Regions from separate parts of the Homo sapiens genome. Here region 2 is linked to region 1. Evidence: fine-mapped expression QTL. Tissue or cell type: tibial artery. Region 1 holds a variant in brackets; the other region holds the start of a gene. All regions are shown on one strand. Distances are between the middles of the regions.

The links. PIP is the estimated chance that this variant, and not a neighbour inherited with it, causes the effect.
Region 2: it holds the start of RNF217-AS1, and the variant in region 1 is fine-mapped to the expression of RNF217-AS1 in tibial artery (GTEx, PIP above 0.99). The same link has a PIP of 0.9 or more in aorta.

What each region holds. Positions count from the first base shown.
Region 1 is chr6:125,098,524-125,106,630 of GRCh38, forward strand. No RefSeq gene overlaps it. Among named protein-coding and RNA genes, the nearest start is that of TPD52L1, 51 kb to the right of the region's middle. RefSeq lists a silencer at 6,883-7,116. The variant C/T (reference allele first, on the strand shown) is at 4,463.
Region 2 is chr6:124,958,668-124,966,774 of GRCh38, forward strand. It overlaps RNF217-AS1 (RNF217 antisense RNA 1), which reads right to left and starts at 4,360. Exons shown (of 7, transcript NR_026876.1): 1 at 4,156-4,360. RNF217 (ring finger protein 217) reads left to right here and starts at 3,770. Exons shown (of 6, transcript NM_001286398.3): 1 at 3,770-4,759. The coding sequence starts at 3,878.

The sequences.
Region 1 (8,107 bases):
TGGATAGCACGTTCCAAGTTAACCTCTCCAGTCCTTGCTCACTGTTGAGACATTGGGATCCCCCCCAACCCCCGACATTAAACAGAACTCTTCCTTCCACCATGCTCTATTAATATAATCACCAACAGATTGGTTATTTATTTTTGCTTATATTATGCATGAGGCCCTCTAGCAAGAACGTGAATTCCATGAGGTCACGGATCATGTTCTATTCATTTTTGGGTCCCCTCCACCGTCTATGGTAACTGGCAGGTACATCATAGGCATTGAAACGTTTGAGGAACAAATTACAAAACTATAAAACAAAAAAGTTTTATAAGAGACGTGCCCAAGACGCCTCAACTTCAGAATGGTGAAGCCAGGGATTCCAACTGGGTCTCCCTTCTCCAGAGTTGTAAGTGCACTAGGTTAGAATCAGCGGAAGAGTGGGAAATGGGAAGAACACGAAGCTGGAAATGGGAAACCTTAGTTCCAGCCTTGGTTTTCATCCTCCAACTGGCATGCTAACTTGCCCTCTCTGGGCTTCCTAGGTCTCTTATTCCTTATATTGGAGGTGTTGTTATGGATAATTTCAAAACAAATCTTTATCTAGCGCCTACTATGCGTTCACATAGTCTGTTCACGTGTATGTAATCCTTACAACCCCTCTGTGGTGTTATTAGTATCCTCGTTTTATAAACAATGTGGGAAAGAAAACAACAAAGCTAAGCCCAGCTAAACTAAAAAATAAAAAATAAAAAATACAGTTCAATGGTTTGTTTGAGGTCACATAGCAAAGGCTCAACTCAAACTCAGGTCTCCTGCTTGCCAGTCTGCGGTTCCTGCCATGGGGAAATTCTGTTATCTTTGAAGAAAATAATAAGTAAGGGAAGAGAGAGATGCCCTTTCACAACTGCAAAATTCTCTCCTCCCCAGTTTCCAGCTCCCATCATCAACAAAGAAAACCACGAAAACAAAAACAAATCCGGATTGCCTTTGTCCACAGTATAGAGGGCGGGGGCGGGGGCGGGGGCGAGGGCGAAGGCGAGGGCGTCGGCGGGGCTGCAGCCTCCACGCAGAGACCACTGATGGCTCCGCGCCGCTCAGTTGATCCCTTCCCACTGCACGGAGCGGGAGACTAAAGGCCCACTGCCCATGGCTGCGAAAACCTTCCTTCGGGAACGCGGAGCTAGTGCACGGGGGCATGTTCTTCCCCCGCAGCCCTGGCAAGCAGAGGCCGGCGGCCTGTGGCGCGGGGCAGTTGTGCTGGCTGCCGGGCGGGGCTGCTCTGGGTCTGGGTGCACGGAGAGGAGCGCGGAGTGAAGCGCACGGTGCACACTGCGGGGCGCTGCTTGTCACCTCCCTGCCCCTCCCTCTGCCCTCCCCCGCTGTCCGGAGCACAGTCCCGGGAGGGCGGATGTCCCCTGGGAAGATGCGCGAGGAGAGCGACTGGGAGGCAGCTAGCAGCACCTGCGTGTGGGCAACACGACCCGAGGCTGTCTCCATTGCCTGCGTGCTGAAAGCATAAAAGCTTTTTTTTTTCTTTTTTTGAGGAAGTAAATGTGTAAATTAAATTACTTTGGTGGGGGTTAGAAAACAGTTTTCCTCAGTGTCATGGTGACATCTTCCATCTGCCAGTTCACTTTTCATAAACCTGCTGATACATTTTCTACATCTCATTAAAAAGGTAACCCAAAAGAAAAGTAACGGGGGGAGAAGGAGATGAAAGGGAGAGAGAAAGGAAAGACAAAACGAAGAGAAAGTTAAAAAAAATAGACTAGGAAAGAGGGCCCACCAGGAACCAGGAGGAGCCCTGGGGATGGGGTCGGGACGAAAGCTGGCAAGAATTTCGGCTGAGTTCCTTTAACAAGTAGAAACGTGCGGGGTTGTGTGCGATTTTCCTGGAAAATCCTCACAACCCTATGAGATAAACATTATTCCCATTTCAGAGATGAGGAAAGTGAAGTCAGGACAGAGTTGCATCATCAATCTGATTTGAATACCAAGGGCAAGTTTTTTCCCACTACATCAGGGTATCCTGATCCGTTTTAAACTATTAGAATCACCGTTGTTGCATTATTTATTAGCCTTGACAGAGACTGAATAACCTCCCCCATCACAGAGTCTGCAAGGACAGAGGTGTGATCTAAACCTGGGCCTGGGAGCCCTGAGCTATCAAGCTAGACTGCTTCTCAGAGCCCTTCTCTTGTTAACCAGGGACTCTGAGGCAGGGTACCCAAACTGTCCTTTGACATCTGCAACTCTAAAAGAGTAATTGGAAATTGGGGAATAATAACACAACAGATAGAAGTTTTTGTTCCCATCAAATGAGACAGTGTATATGAAAGTACATAGCATAATACCAGTTATTTTCTTTCTGACATTCAATTCATTGAAAGTTTATTCAACATTACTTATTCAGTTTATTAGTAGTAGTAGTAGTAGTAAGCATGTTTAGGGCCCCTCCTGTGTTATTAGACATACCCTGTATGTGGATCTTGGTGAAGGCTGGGCTCCAATCCTGGTCTTGTGGAGAGTACTAGGCAAAGATTTAGGACAAATGGATTCCTATCTTGAATTCTTACATTAATTTGCTCTGTGATATTGGCATAGCCACATACCTTCCCAGACTTTGGTCTAAAATCAAGGAGTGCAAGGGTAGTCTCTAAGATCTCTTTCAGCAATGAAATGTGGGTCCATGTAACCTATATTTAAAGTTAGTTCCAACTGTTCAGTTCTATTATTTCTGTAATCCAGACAGGCCCTGTCAAGCAGCTGTGCATCTGCATACTCCCATAGGCTGGGTCTCTACCTCCTCCTCCTCCTCCTCCTCCTCCTCCTCCTCCTCCTCCTAACTCCTACTTCTCCATCGTCCTCAGCCCCAGCATTTTCTCCTGCTAGATGCCATCCTGCCTGTACCATCCAGGGTGCATCACCATGGCCCCCTCTGTTAAGGACTCTTTGTAAATCACCACTGAGCAAGGCACTTGTATTAGTTTTCTAGGGTAGAAGTAGCAAAATACCACAAACTGGGTGGGTTACAACAACAAACTTAATTCTCTCATAGAGAGGCCTGAAGTCTGAAATCAAAGTGTCAGCAGCACTGTTTCCTTCTGGAGGCTCTGAAGGAGAATCTGTTTTTTGTCTCTCTCCTCGCTTCTGGTGGTTGCCAGCAATCCTTGGCATTCTTTGACTTGCTGTATCTTCACTTCACTTCAGTCATTGGATATAGGACCCAACCTTATCCAGTGTCATCTTTGGGGCAGAAATGTGTTCTCTCTAAATTCATATGTTGAAGTCCTAATCCCCACAGCCTCAGGCTGTGACTGTATTTGGAGATAGAATCTTGACACAGGGAACTAAGTAAGGTAGAATGAGGTCATACGGGTGGGCCCTAACCCAATATGACTGGCATCCTCATAAGAGGAGATTGGGACACAGGCATACACAGAGGAAAGTTCATGCTGAAGACATAAAGAAAAGATGGCCAACTGCAAGCCAAGGAGAGAGGCCTCAGAGGAAATCAACCCTGTTTACACCTTGATCTTAGACTTCTAGCCTCCAGAACTGTGAGAAAATAACTTTCTATTGTTTAAGTCCCTCCCACTCCAGGTCTGTGGTACCTTGTTATGACAGCCCTAACAAAGGAATACAGACCTTCACTTAAATACTACAATTACATCCACAAACACCCTATTTCAAATAAAGTCACATTCTGAGGTTCCAAGAGGACATTAACTTTTGGGAAGACACCATTCAACCTATTACAGCACTTTTCACAGTTTCCTTCAGGTCTTTGTGTTCCTTCAAGGCAGGGACAATTATCCCCAACAGGGCACAAGTCCTGGCCCTTAATATGTGCTCTACAAAGGGAGAAGGAAGAAAGGAAGTAAAAAGTAAAAGAAAAGAAAGAGAGTAATAACAGAAAAGAGAGAGGAAGGAAAAGGGAAAAAAAAGGAAGGAAAGCTGCATGCTTTCCTAGTTTCCTCGTTTCAATTACATCCTTCAAAACAAAATACTGTTCTTCTTGAGCAAAAGATTTCTTAAAGCGTCTTTGAATTTCTGTGTGTATGCAATTTACTTTGAAACATGCAAAGGAAAGAAATAAGGGAAACGTGATAATATCCTGTTGCCTCATTGCTGGCCCTGAAAAACACTTCCAAGGGGTTGCCCAATTAAATATAATACACTCAGTTAAATTTTAATTTCAGATAGACAAGCAGTAATTTTTAGTATAAGTATGTCCTAAATGTGATATATATAAGTGTGTGTGTACATATATGTGTGTGTGTATGTGTGTGTATATATATATACACACATATATATATATACACATGTACACTAGACATGATAGAAAGAACATAGACATTGGGCCCATACAAATTTAGGCTCCAGTTTTTACTACCTTTTAGCTCAGGGACCTGGGGCAAGTTACTTAATCTCTTTGTATGTCAGATTCTTCATCTATAAAATTATAATAGAC[C/T]TATGGGAAAGGGTTGTTGGGACTTTAAAATGTCTGGTATGTGCTGCTTCCGTAACTAGAACAGTGTCTAACACATAGTAATCAATGACTCAACAAATATTTTTGAAGGAATGAAAGAACACATTCCCTTCTTCCCTATATGGACTTCCCTGGAGGATTGGGACAGCCAACCCAACAATAGCAGGGGCCCTAGGACAGGCCACAGCACAGTCCAGGGAGCACCCCAGCCTTCCATGGTAGAAAACCCACTCCACATCCACTGTTCCTCGGAATAATCTGGTTTTAGGATGCAGGGGACATACAACCAATTTGATACAGGCAGAGTTTTCCTTCTAGAAAATGTGTGTGTTTTTATTACAGAACAAAGGCGACAACATCTTACACTAAAATTCAAAAGTCTGTAAACCTTAGAGAACCTATTTCCATATGTAATGCATTGAATTTAAAGGCACACTCCTATTTGTGAAGGTGATTCTAACTAATTTAAATGGACCTAAATAGTTTTTAAATAGCAATATAAGCAGATGCTATCTTATTAGAAAATCATTTGAGCAGCACATTTATTTCCTAGAGCTGGAATCAAATCGTTCTATCTCCTTCTACAGTATGCATTTTTATGTAATCAATTGGTAATAGTGAAAAATATCTTAAAAGTGCATTGTTTCTTGACAGAAGGCTATTTCTTTTCAGAAATAAAAATCATTGTGAAAGAAGATATTTATTCTTAATGCTACAACTGAAACTAGGGGTTTTGTTATTGACTTGCTTCCTAATCAAGAAACTTCCATCATATAAATAAGGTGGTCTGGGTAGTGAAATGAGCATTGATTCAGGAGTCGAAAAACCTGGTTTCTGTGCCTCCTCCTGGGTGCTGCAGCCTCGGACCAGGTGCTCAACCCTGGAGCCAAATTTCCTTCCCTTGACTATGAGGGGAACCAGCTCTCTCATATACTTATACCATATTATATAACCAATAATATGCAATAAAATCAAACTACAGCAATTATAATCCTCTTTTACAATTTTATAAAGTTAAATTTTGCTTTAACAACTATAAAATGGGAATAAGTGTACTTTGGATACCGTTCGTGTAGGAAGCCCAAAGTAGTATTCAATGAATGGAAACTCCCTTCCCCCTTCCCTCAAGCAAATCACTCTTAACCCAGAAAATGTTATTGACAACTGCTGGGTTATAATTGTGATTTTTTTCCCCCCCGCCCCCAATTAATATGCTTCCCATACTGGCCATTAATTCAACATTGAATGAACACATATTAGCTTGCCAACTTTGAATGTTGTTTTGCTCAGTTAGACATGATTTCATACCTTAAGACTTTTTAAGGCTTATATTTTTTAGCCTATCTACTATTTAAACTGGGTACAGGAAGTGCCAGTTTAAGGAGGACAGCCCCAAGAAATGGTCCAGGCATTTCATGAGGGAGATTGGATGATTTTCCCCTCAACCAGCGGCACAGAGGCCCTTTCAATGCCTAGAAATAGATCTCCTATTGAGCCTCTGTTTATCTCCTCTGACCATAAAAAGCAGCTGGCTCTGCAGGAAAGACTGGTGGCTGCAATTAACTCCAGGAGGCCAGAAGCCGAAATCCTGTGCAACACGAATAAAGGCTTCTCAAAGAACTTGTGGAGTCATGTTGCTAGCTCATTGCTAGAACCATTCAGTCTTCTGAGGAAGAAATCTGTGAGCTAAACACCAAACACATCACTGTAAAATTTCCTGTAACCACCAGCGGCACTCCAAATCATTCCATTATTCTCTGAGTTGCTTCACAGTGACTGGGTATTAAATCTGCTGTGTGGCTAAATGCTGATGGCATTTTGTTAAATGAAAAGCATTTTAAAGAGGATTGGTTGATCCAATTGTTCTCATATTCTATTACTTTGCATTCAAACTTAACTCAGTATTAGACTAATAGTAACTATGAAAATAAAAAGAAAGCAGAATCTGATTTTTTTAAGTCCACTGGAGGCAATAAGAAGTTTCTATTGGAACACTTCACATGTTGTTAAACAATTACCAGATTATTAGAAAACACTTTCAAATACCTCTTTGATCTTTGCTAAGAGCCCTGATGAACATTTTTCTTACTGCTTATATTCCCCACAGATAAAATACAAAGACCTGGAAAATAGCAATAATCTAATTATTAGGCATATGTCCAGGAACAGAAGTGAGAAGTAGTAAAGGCAATCAAATGTTCATCTGAAACCTATCCCAGATGAACAGTCCAACTTAACTTGGTGCTGTTATTCTTTTTTTTTTTTGAGATGGAATTTCACTCTTGTTGCCCGGGCTGGAGTGCAATGGCACGATCTCCCCTCACTGCAACCTCTGCCTCCCAGTTTCAAGCGATTCTCCTGCCTCAGCCTCCCAAGTAGCTGGGATTACAGGCATGTGCCACCATGCCCAGCTAATTTTGTATTTTTAGTAGAGACAGGGTTTTTCCATTTTGGTCAGGCTGGTCTTGAACTACCAACCTCAGGTGATCTGCCTGCCTCAGCCTCCCAAAGTGCTGGGATTACAGGCGTGAGCCACCGCGCCCGGCTGGTGCTGTTATTCTTAAACCAAAAAAAAAAAAAAGACTCCAAATCTTCAACCCAAAAATTTCTTTAAGGCTGAACAAATGTGTTTAAAGCTATAGGTAACCATAAGGTAACCAGAAATCTGAGGAAAGGTGTTGACTGATTACACTTGCTAGCAACTGATTGCCTCTATATGGCTGAAGTAAAAGGATGGAACTAGGAGGTATCAATACAGGGTGGTTGGGATAAGTATAACAATAAAGGTAAATATGGCTTTTTTTTTTTTTTTTTTTGAGACAGGGTCTCCCCCTGTAGCCCAGACTGGAGTCCAGTGATGCAATCATAGCTCACTGCAGCCTTGAATTCCTGGACCCAAGTAATCCTCTCTCCTCAGCCTCTCACGTAGCTGAGACTATAGGCATGCACCACCAACCCCAACTAATTTTTTTAGGTTTTGTAAAGACAGAGTCTTGCTATGTTGCTCAGAGTGGTCTCAAACTCGTGGTCTCCAGTGATTCTCCAGCTCCAGCCTCCCAAAGTGCTGGAATTACAGGTGTAAGCCACTATGCCTGGACCATAAGACAATTTTGTAGACATTTTAGGCAAAATAATTACATTAGCCTCCAATACACACACACACATACACACATATACACACACACATACACACACACACGCGTGCACACACACCCCAGACATAAGTCGTGTGTATGTGTATGTTCTAGAGCTTGCTTCTGTCGGTTTGTGAGAGTCGACTATGAGAGTCTCTTCTAGACTATGTTCAGTAACATCAAGTTGGCAGTTTGAAATTGGCAAAGATGAGAGTACACTTCTAAAACTGGCCAACTGTGCAAACCAGAGGGTTGCCTTTTGTTGTTGTTGTTTGTTTGTTAGTTTTGAGACAGAGTCTCTCTCTGTCACCCAGGCTGGAGTGCAGTGCTGTGATCATGGCTCACTGCAACCTCCGCCTCCTGGGTTCAAGCGATTCTTATAGCTCAGCCACCAGAGTGGCTGGGACCACAGGTGTGCACCACCACACCAGGCTAATTTTTGTATTTTTAGTATAGATGGTGTTTTGCCATGTTGCCTAGGCTGGTCTTGAAC
Region 2 (8,107 bases), 140 kb before region 1:
AGAAATATTATTAAGTCCACATATTTATGGCCAACTAATTTCCAACAAAGGTGCCAAGAATAAACATTGGGGAAAAGACATTCTCTTCAATAAATGATGCCGAGAAAACTGGAAATCCCTATGCATAAGAATGAAACTAGACACCTATCACTCACACAGTTGATCACAAAAATCAACTCAAAAGACTTTCTTTTATATAGACTTTCTTTCTCAAAAGAAGTCATACAAATGGCTAACAAGTTTATTTAAAAAATGCCCAGCATCATCAATCACCAGAGAAATGCAGATCAAAACCACAATGAGACATCATCTTACCACAGTTAGAATGACTATTATCAAAAAGACAAAAAATAACAAAAGGTGGCCAGGATGCATAGAAGAGGGAAATTTTATACACTCTTGATGGGAACATAAATATGTATAGTCATTATAGAAAATAGTCTGGAAGTTTCTCAAAAAACTAAAAATATAACTACCATATGATCCAGCAATCTCATTACTGGGTATTTATCCAGTAGCAGGAAAGGAAATCAGTAAATCAAAGTGACATCTGCACCCCTATATTTATTATAGCACTATTTACAAGAGGTTGATATGGAATCAACCTAAGTGTCTATCAACAGATGAATGGATAAAGAAAATATGGTATGTATATTCAATAAAATACTATTTAGCCATAAAAAATGAAATTTTGTCATTTACAGCAACATGGATGGCACTAGAGATCATTATGTTAAGTGAAATAAGGCAGGCACAGAAAGACAAATATCACATGTTCTTGATATATGGGAGTTTAAAAAGTTGATCTCATGGAAGTAGAAAGGAGAATGATAGTTCCCAGAGGCTGGAAACACAGGGGCAGATGAAGAGAAGTTGGTTATATGTATACAAACATATACTTAGATAGAAGGACTAAGTTCTAGTGTTCAATAGCACAGTAGGCTGACTATAGCTATATATTGTATATTTTAAAACAGCTAGAAGAGAATATTTGAAATGTTTCCAACACAAAGAAATGATAACTGTTCAAGGTGATGAATATCCTGTGTACCTTTATTTGATCATCACACATGGTATGCATATATCAAAATATCACATATATCCCACAAATATGTTCAAATATTATGCATTAATAAAAATGATTTAAAAAAATTGAAGGGAGCCAAAAAGAAGTCATGTTTTAATGCCAGGATAAGAAAGGCAATAATAGAAAAAACAGCATTCTAAAACTGACATAGTTTTCTGATATTGAAGTCTGGATTTTAGGGAAGGTACACAGTTCACTGCAGATTAGGACATTTTGAGGCTTTATGTTGGTAGGAGCAGGATATTAGTGATAGTACTTACGTTGTATCAACAGTTGTGTACAACCTGAGATGGAGCAGATGGTTTGAGTTTTGAGAATATTAAGCTTGTGGCAGATAAATGGAATTTTTGCTAAAATATTAAATATTGGTTAATAAAATATTTTCAACCAATCCTTCTTTAAATAATTAATCCCATCGAAACAATCATTACTGGTGCTTCATGCACTTCAGAGAAAATTCATTGTGGAACCACGATGTTAACTTTTCAATTTAATTCACTTCCATGCTGCTGGAGTCCCATGAGCACTAGATTGAATGCCAGGGGTGGTGGGTCAAGGATTCAGGCAAGTTTGGGCCAATTTGGAGGGTGGAAATAGGGAACCACATATTATTCTATTTTCACAAAGGCCCAATGAATTCTGTAGGGAAGAAGTCATGGCAAAATAAAGGGCTGCAGTTTTAAGCAGCAGAGATATGGGCGGCCATCATGAGTCCCAGCAGGGACTTCTAATGGGTTTGGTGTAGAGGACAGCCACTTCCAGTAAGCTGGAACCTAAGGGATAAGGAATAAAATGGTAAACACTGGAAGAACAAGTTCTCAGAATACGAGTGAAAAATGTGTGTGAGGAGGGGTTCCCAAAACTATAAGAGGACTTTGAGGGGTTTTATTCCAATAGACGCTGTGGGAATATACTTTTTGGCATCCATTATTGTTACTCTGGTCTTAGCCTGTTGTCACCTGGAAAATGCAGATTACTTTTATATCTCTGGAAAGAATAGTGGCTTGGTCATCAGATGGCACACTCAAAAGGCACACATAAGTAGGTTTCTTGTCTCTGTCTTTAAAACAATAAGCACTTAAAGTATCATTTGGAGAAAACAGCAGTTACCAGGAAATCACTTAGCTGAGATAAAAAAGAAAAGAATCCTCGAATAGCATTTAATCTTCAAAATAAGAATTTTCCATTCTTGGGTCAGACCGATAGATGACATGGCATTTAGACATCCAATTCATACCTTTGCTTGCAACTGAGCCTCAGACACACATATATGATGGAAATGTTCTTTGGCATTACACTGCTTTCTTAGTTTGCATCGCTAGTCACCTTTGTATCATTTGCATCTGATTTGGAAAATATTTTAGAACAACCCAATAACAACTTCGAGATTAAAAAATAAAATTCTACACACTTTACAGTTCCTTGCTATTACATGAATGTGTAAATTGAATTCCCTCTCAGGAGAAAAAAAACAAAACAAGGGCTGGCTTCCCAAAAATGTTTTCACTGGCTTTAGGGAACTAAAACACCAGTGTCTGGGTGAGTAATACTTCCTGTAAAATAAAGATAGATCAACACATAATTAAGTCCTGGCTCACATATAATTGTTGTTTTGGAAACAGTTTTGAGGATAAATATGGTTATGCTAATGAAACTGCCCATGATTTCCACTAATGATCCAGTTTATTAATTAGGTCAGGACATTTTTCCACCTTGTGCTATCCATTTTGGAATGCTGAAAAGGGTTAAAAAAAAAAACTTCTAAGAGAACACTGTAGGCGAAGAAAAAGAGAGAAATTTTAAATTAGTTATCAACTCTTCTAAGGATTCCAGTTGGAGGAGTAGATCGAAAGTGCTTTTTCGATTATTTATGGGTTTCGAAGATTCTTCCTACTCCACTAGGCAGAAAAACAGAGTTGTAATATACAGCATTTAGAATTCATAATCCTTAGCATTATTTCTCTGAACTCGACATCCTAAATAGCCAGCGTTTACTAATTCCAGAGCTGAGTGTAGTTTTGTAGGAAGTTCTACTGAATGCGGAGACCAAAGGGGAGCCTGCCTGCTCTGAGGGTTTTGTTGAGGCTGAGTGTGAACTCCGGGCGAGAAAGCGCATCTCAGCTCTTAGATCACACCCACTCAGGGTGTGCGTGTGTGTGTGCGCGGGTGCCTGCGCGCGTGTGTACGTGTGGGGAGGTGTGCGCCAAAGGGGTGGGGTGAGGGGCGGCGAGGAGGGCTGTAGGTGAAGCGCGGGGAGAGGGAGGTCGCCCGCTCCGGCCTCTCCCCCAGGGGCCCTGCGGCTGGCCAGCGCTCCGGCTGCACCTCCTGGTGCGCGCCGCGGCGGCGCCACAGGCCCCTCGACCCTTTGACCACCGCCCTCGGGCCGCGCGTCCGGCAGCCGGGACCGGTGATGGCGCGGGACTGACGGCCGTCTCCTCCCAGACCCCTCTGTCCCGCCTGGGGCTCGCTGGGGCTGCGGCGCCGCCCCGAGCTGCATGTGGGGCGGGCGCGCCCGAGCCCAGAGCGAGCGGCCCTCGGCGCCCCCGAGGCGGTGCCCCGCCGCGCCAGAGTACGAGGAGGAGCGGCGGGCCGGGCCAGGCTCCCCACGCGCCGCAGCCTCGGAGCACGGGCTCCCCGGAGGGGACTTGGGGCGTCCCAGCCCAGGAGGAAGGACCCGGAAGCAGAAGCGGAGCCGCGAGTCGAGCCGAGCCACTGCCCCCGCTGCCCGCGGGCGCCGGGTGGGGGTCCCGGCGGCTGGATGGGCAGCGGCGGCGCGGGCCGCGGGCGGCGATGGGCGAGGAGCAGAGCACGGTGAGCGGCGGCGGCGGGCCCCAGGAGTCGCAGACCCTGGCCAGTGGCACTGCGGGCCACCCTGAGCCCCCGAGGCCTCAGGGGGACAGCGCCCGGGCGCCCCCGCTGCGCGCCGCCTCCGCGGAGCCGAGCGGCGGTGGCTGCGGAAGCGACTGGGGCTGCGCGGACACCAGCGCCCCAGAGCCCGCGAGGAGCCTGGGGCCCCCGGGCTGGAGTAAGAGCCGAGCACCGGCGCAGCCTGCGGGACTGGCACTCACCGGGCCTCTCAATCCCCAGACCTTGCCACTGCAGTTGGAGCTGGAGGAGGAAGAGGAGGAAGCTGGGGATCGAAAAGAGGGAGGGGATGAACAGCAGGAGGCGCCCCCCGGCGAAGAGCTGGAGCCCAGGACCCGCGTGGGGGCCGCCGACGGACTGGTCCTGGACGTGCTGGGTCAGCGGCGCCCGTCCCTCGCCAAGAGACAAGTCTTCTGCTCCGTGTACTGCGTGGAGAGCGACCTGCCCGAGGCCCCCGCCTCGGAGCAGCTCTCGCCGCCCGCGTCGCCACCTGGGGCTCCGCCAGTGTTGAACCCTCCCAGCACCCGCTCTTCCTTCCCCAGCCCCCGACTGTCCCTCCCAACGGATTCCCTCTCCCCCGACGGCGGCAGCATCGAGCTGGAGTTCTACCTGGCGCCCGAGCCGTTCTCCATGCCCAGCCTGTTGGGAGCTCCACCCTACTCTGGCCTGGGCGGTGTAGGGGATCCCTATGTGCCCCTCATGGTGCTGATGTGCCGGGTGTGCCTGGAAGACAAGCCCATCAAGCCCCTGCCTTGCTGCAAGAAGGCCGTGTGCGAGGAGTGCCTCAAAGTCTACCTGAGCGCCCAGGTAACTTCACCCCCTTCTCTTCCCCATTTATCATTCCAAATCACTGGCGAGGAGGTCCTGCTCTCGATCTGATCTCCCTGCTCGCGCGAAGAGGTGACCGACACACTTACTGAGGATCTCTGTTAGTTTCTCACGTCTCAGTTGTTATTTAAGTGTATTATGACCTCACTGGTTTACTTAACTGGAATTTAACTTTGCTGTGAACTTCAGGCTATGGTTGGCATGTGTAGAAGGCACAAGATACAAGTTGTTGCCCTCCTCTTATTTCTTATACAGGATTGCAAGCACAAGCTTGCTCAAAGGAGGAGAGGAAGAGACTGCCTCATCGGCCTGGTATCCCAGAAACTAACAAGCAGTGGGCATAGAATAAATATTTATGGAGCTGGTGGAGAAAAGAATTGGAATAAATATTTCAGACCCATAATACATGAATTTGTAATTTTGCTTCATTTGTATATTCCAGGAAAGAGTGAATGTTTAAAAAAATGTATCCCTTGGCCTTTGCCTACTTTTCAGTTTCCTTTTTCCACAGTAAAGTTGAAGTACTTTTCTTTCACTGAGGTTTTAAGCCAGCACTCTTTAAGAGGGAAGCAAAACAGAAAGAGCAAAACAAAGCAAAGAGAGGCTAAGAGGTTTCTCAGAACAAGCACTGGTGAAACTTTCCTCCTCTGCTTTTATTTGAAAACTTGGTTTTTTTTCTTGGAAAGCTTGAGAGTGCACCAGACCAGCTTTCCTTCACTGACGGTGAATGCGTTCTTCCAGCAGTTTTCAATCTGTGATGTTTCTGCCAGTGTTTTGCACAATCCTGGATGCCCTTTGATCCTGTGTCCAATTGTCCTAGGCCTATTCATCTTTCAAAACCCTGTGTGTTCAGGTGCCAACTCTTCTGTGAAGCGTTGCCTCACCCTCCAAGTCACTGCTTATATACTTTCACAGTATCTTATATTATCTTACATGCACTGAAGTTGTTTCTTTCGTGTCTGCTTGTCTTGTTAGACTGTCTGGACAATGTCTTAGAGTCCCATATGTGGTAGCTTCATGTTGAGTCCCTTGCCCATCATAGTGTTTTTAATAACATTGGCTGGGACAAACTGAACAGGGCTCCGTACCATGTGATTCCTCTATGTTTTTTGGCTAACTCATGCTTGGGTCTAGACTGAAAGTGTGTACAGTCCCTAACTAAAAATGCAAACAAAGACTTAAAACGGTATGTTACATAAACAGTAAGTTGGCTAAAATAGTTGGGATTATTTAAAAGCCTCTGAGAGACTGTTGTTTCTTTCATGCTTTATCTACAGAGATTCTTAAAACAGGAGGAATGTCTGCTGCTGGTTGTGGTAGTTTCTGTATCATCATCCTCAAAACAGATTTCGCTGCCCTGCGATGGGATTCAGACATTTCCAAAATATAAGCCCGCCTCCAGGGAAGTCACTGTGAGAGCAGATGTGTACAAAAGAACAATACAAGGTAGCATGGGATGAGATGTCAATAGAGTAACAATTCCAGATAGCACTTCCTGTTAAATGCTGGATACACATTCCAGAAATTCAAGGGAGGTAGTCATTGTGGCTTGGGGTACTTTACCTAGCAGTTTGATTTCCTTATGGTGGGCCCTTTCCCCAAAGCAGTTTTCTTTTTCTTTATTAAACCTCATAAGTTAGTTTTAGGAAGTTTTAGTAATGGTAGTAGGGAGACAGAGGGACATAGTCAAGTGGTCATTGCAGTGTACAGTACAACCACTAAAAACTCCTCTGCAGTGACACAGTATCTGAAGCTTGTCTGCAGCATTTCTGATTGTATGTATGTGCCTGACCTTCTTCCAAAGTATTTGCTGGGACTTTCAATAAATAATAATACACATTATTGGCCGGGTGCGGTGGCTCACGCCTGTAATCCCAGCACTTTGGGAGGCTGAGGCAGGTGGATCACCTGAGATCGGGAGTTCAAGACCAGCCTGACCAACATGGTGAAACCCCGTCTCTACTAAAAATACAAAATTAGCTGGGCATGGTGGCGCATGCCTGTAATCCCAGCTACTTGGAAGGCTGAGGCAGAAGAATCACTTGAACCCAGGAGGCAGAGGTTGCAGTGAGCCAAGATCACATGATTGCACTCCAGCCTGGGCAACAGAGTGAGACTCCTCTCAAAAAAAAAGAAGAATATACATTATTTAAAATAATAAACAGCAACAAAAAGATGAGTCATAGATACCGGGCATGCTTTCACCTCAGGGCTTTTGTACTTGGTTTTCCCTGTTCCAGGAAGGTTCCCTCCATGGCCCTCTTATCTGCTCACTGCACTCCTTTTCAGGGCTATATTCAAATGTCATGCCCTGTGACTTTCACTGACCACCCTTTTAAAAATTGAGCCTCACCCCACGCTCTCTCTCTTTTTTCCTGCTTTTTATTTTCTCCATAGCACTAACATACTCTGTCTTACACTTAAGTAATTAAGTCAAGACAGAAGTTTTCACATTATTTGTACAGGTCTGTATCTTTAGCATCTACAGCGTTGTCTGGTATATAACAGATGGGCAACTAAAACCTACTGAATTTTTGAAAGGCCTGAGATTGCCCCAGAAACCAAGGCTAGGAAGTGGTGTTCTGCATTGGCACTAAATTCTATTCTGAGCTTCTTGATACTTAAGACAAAAGACAAAGGGCTTAAAGCGGACAAAAGTAACAGGTTTGCTAAGTTGGTTATTAAACTTAGAATTTAAGAGCTTAGATAAACTTTGAGCTTATACATAAAATAGCCTTTTTTAGTTGGTTAAAAATACAGGATTGTGGTTGTAATATTTTTGATCTGTGTCAATTCTATGGTCCCTCTACTCAAAGGTTGTGTTTCTCTGTCACTTAACCTCTCTATGCCTTAATTTCCTCATCAATGAAATGTAATTGCAGACAACCTGTAATAACCCACCAGTTCCAAAGCAAAACAAAGTCAAACTGCATGGTTATTTTGTTGCCCTACTGAACCACATCAAAAGGGCATAGTGAGTGCTTTCTTTCTCATCTTAAAAGGTCTCTTAGGTTTGACAGAAGCAAATGTGTCAAGCCTAAACTTTCAGGGTTCTTAAGACCTTTTGAAAAAAATGATGTATTGAGATAAAGAGTTATTAGTGACTTTTTTCCACCATTTCTTTTAGTTTGTGCCACATAGTGCATTATTTAACATCATTTAAGAAAATAAAAGAGTCCCTATTAAACATTTTATGCCAACATTAAATTGCATATTAAATGTGAGTTGGACTATTGCCTGGTTAACTGAATATTTTTGTAAAAGGAGATGCACAGTTCTTTGAAAGAAGATGTCAACTTGGAAGATAGGAATATGGATTTTTAGACA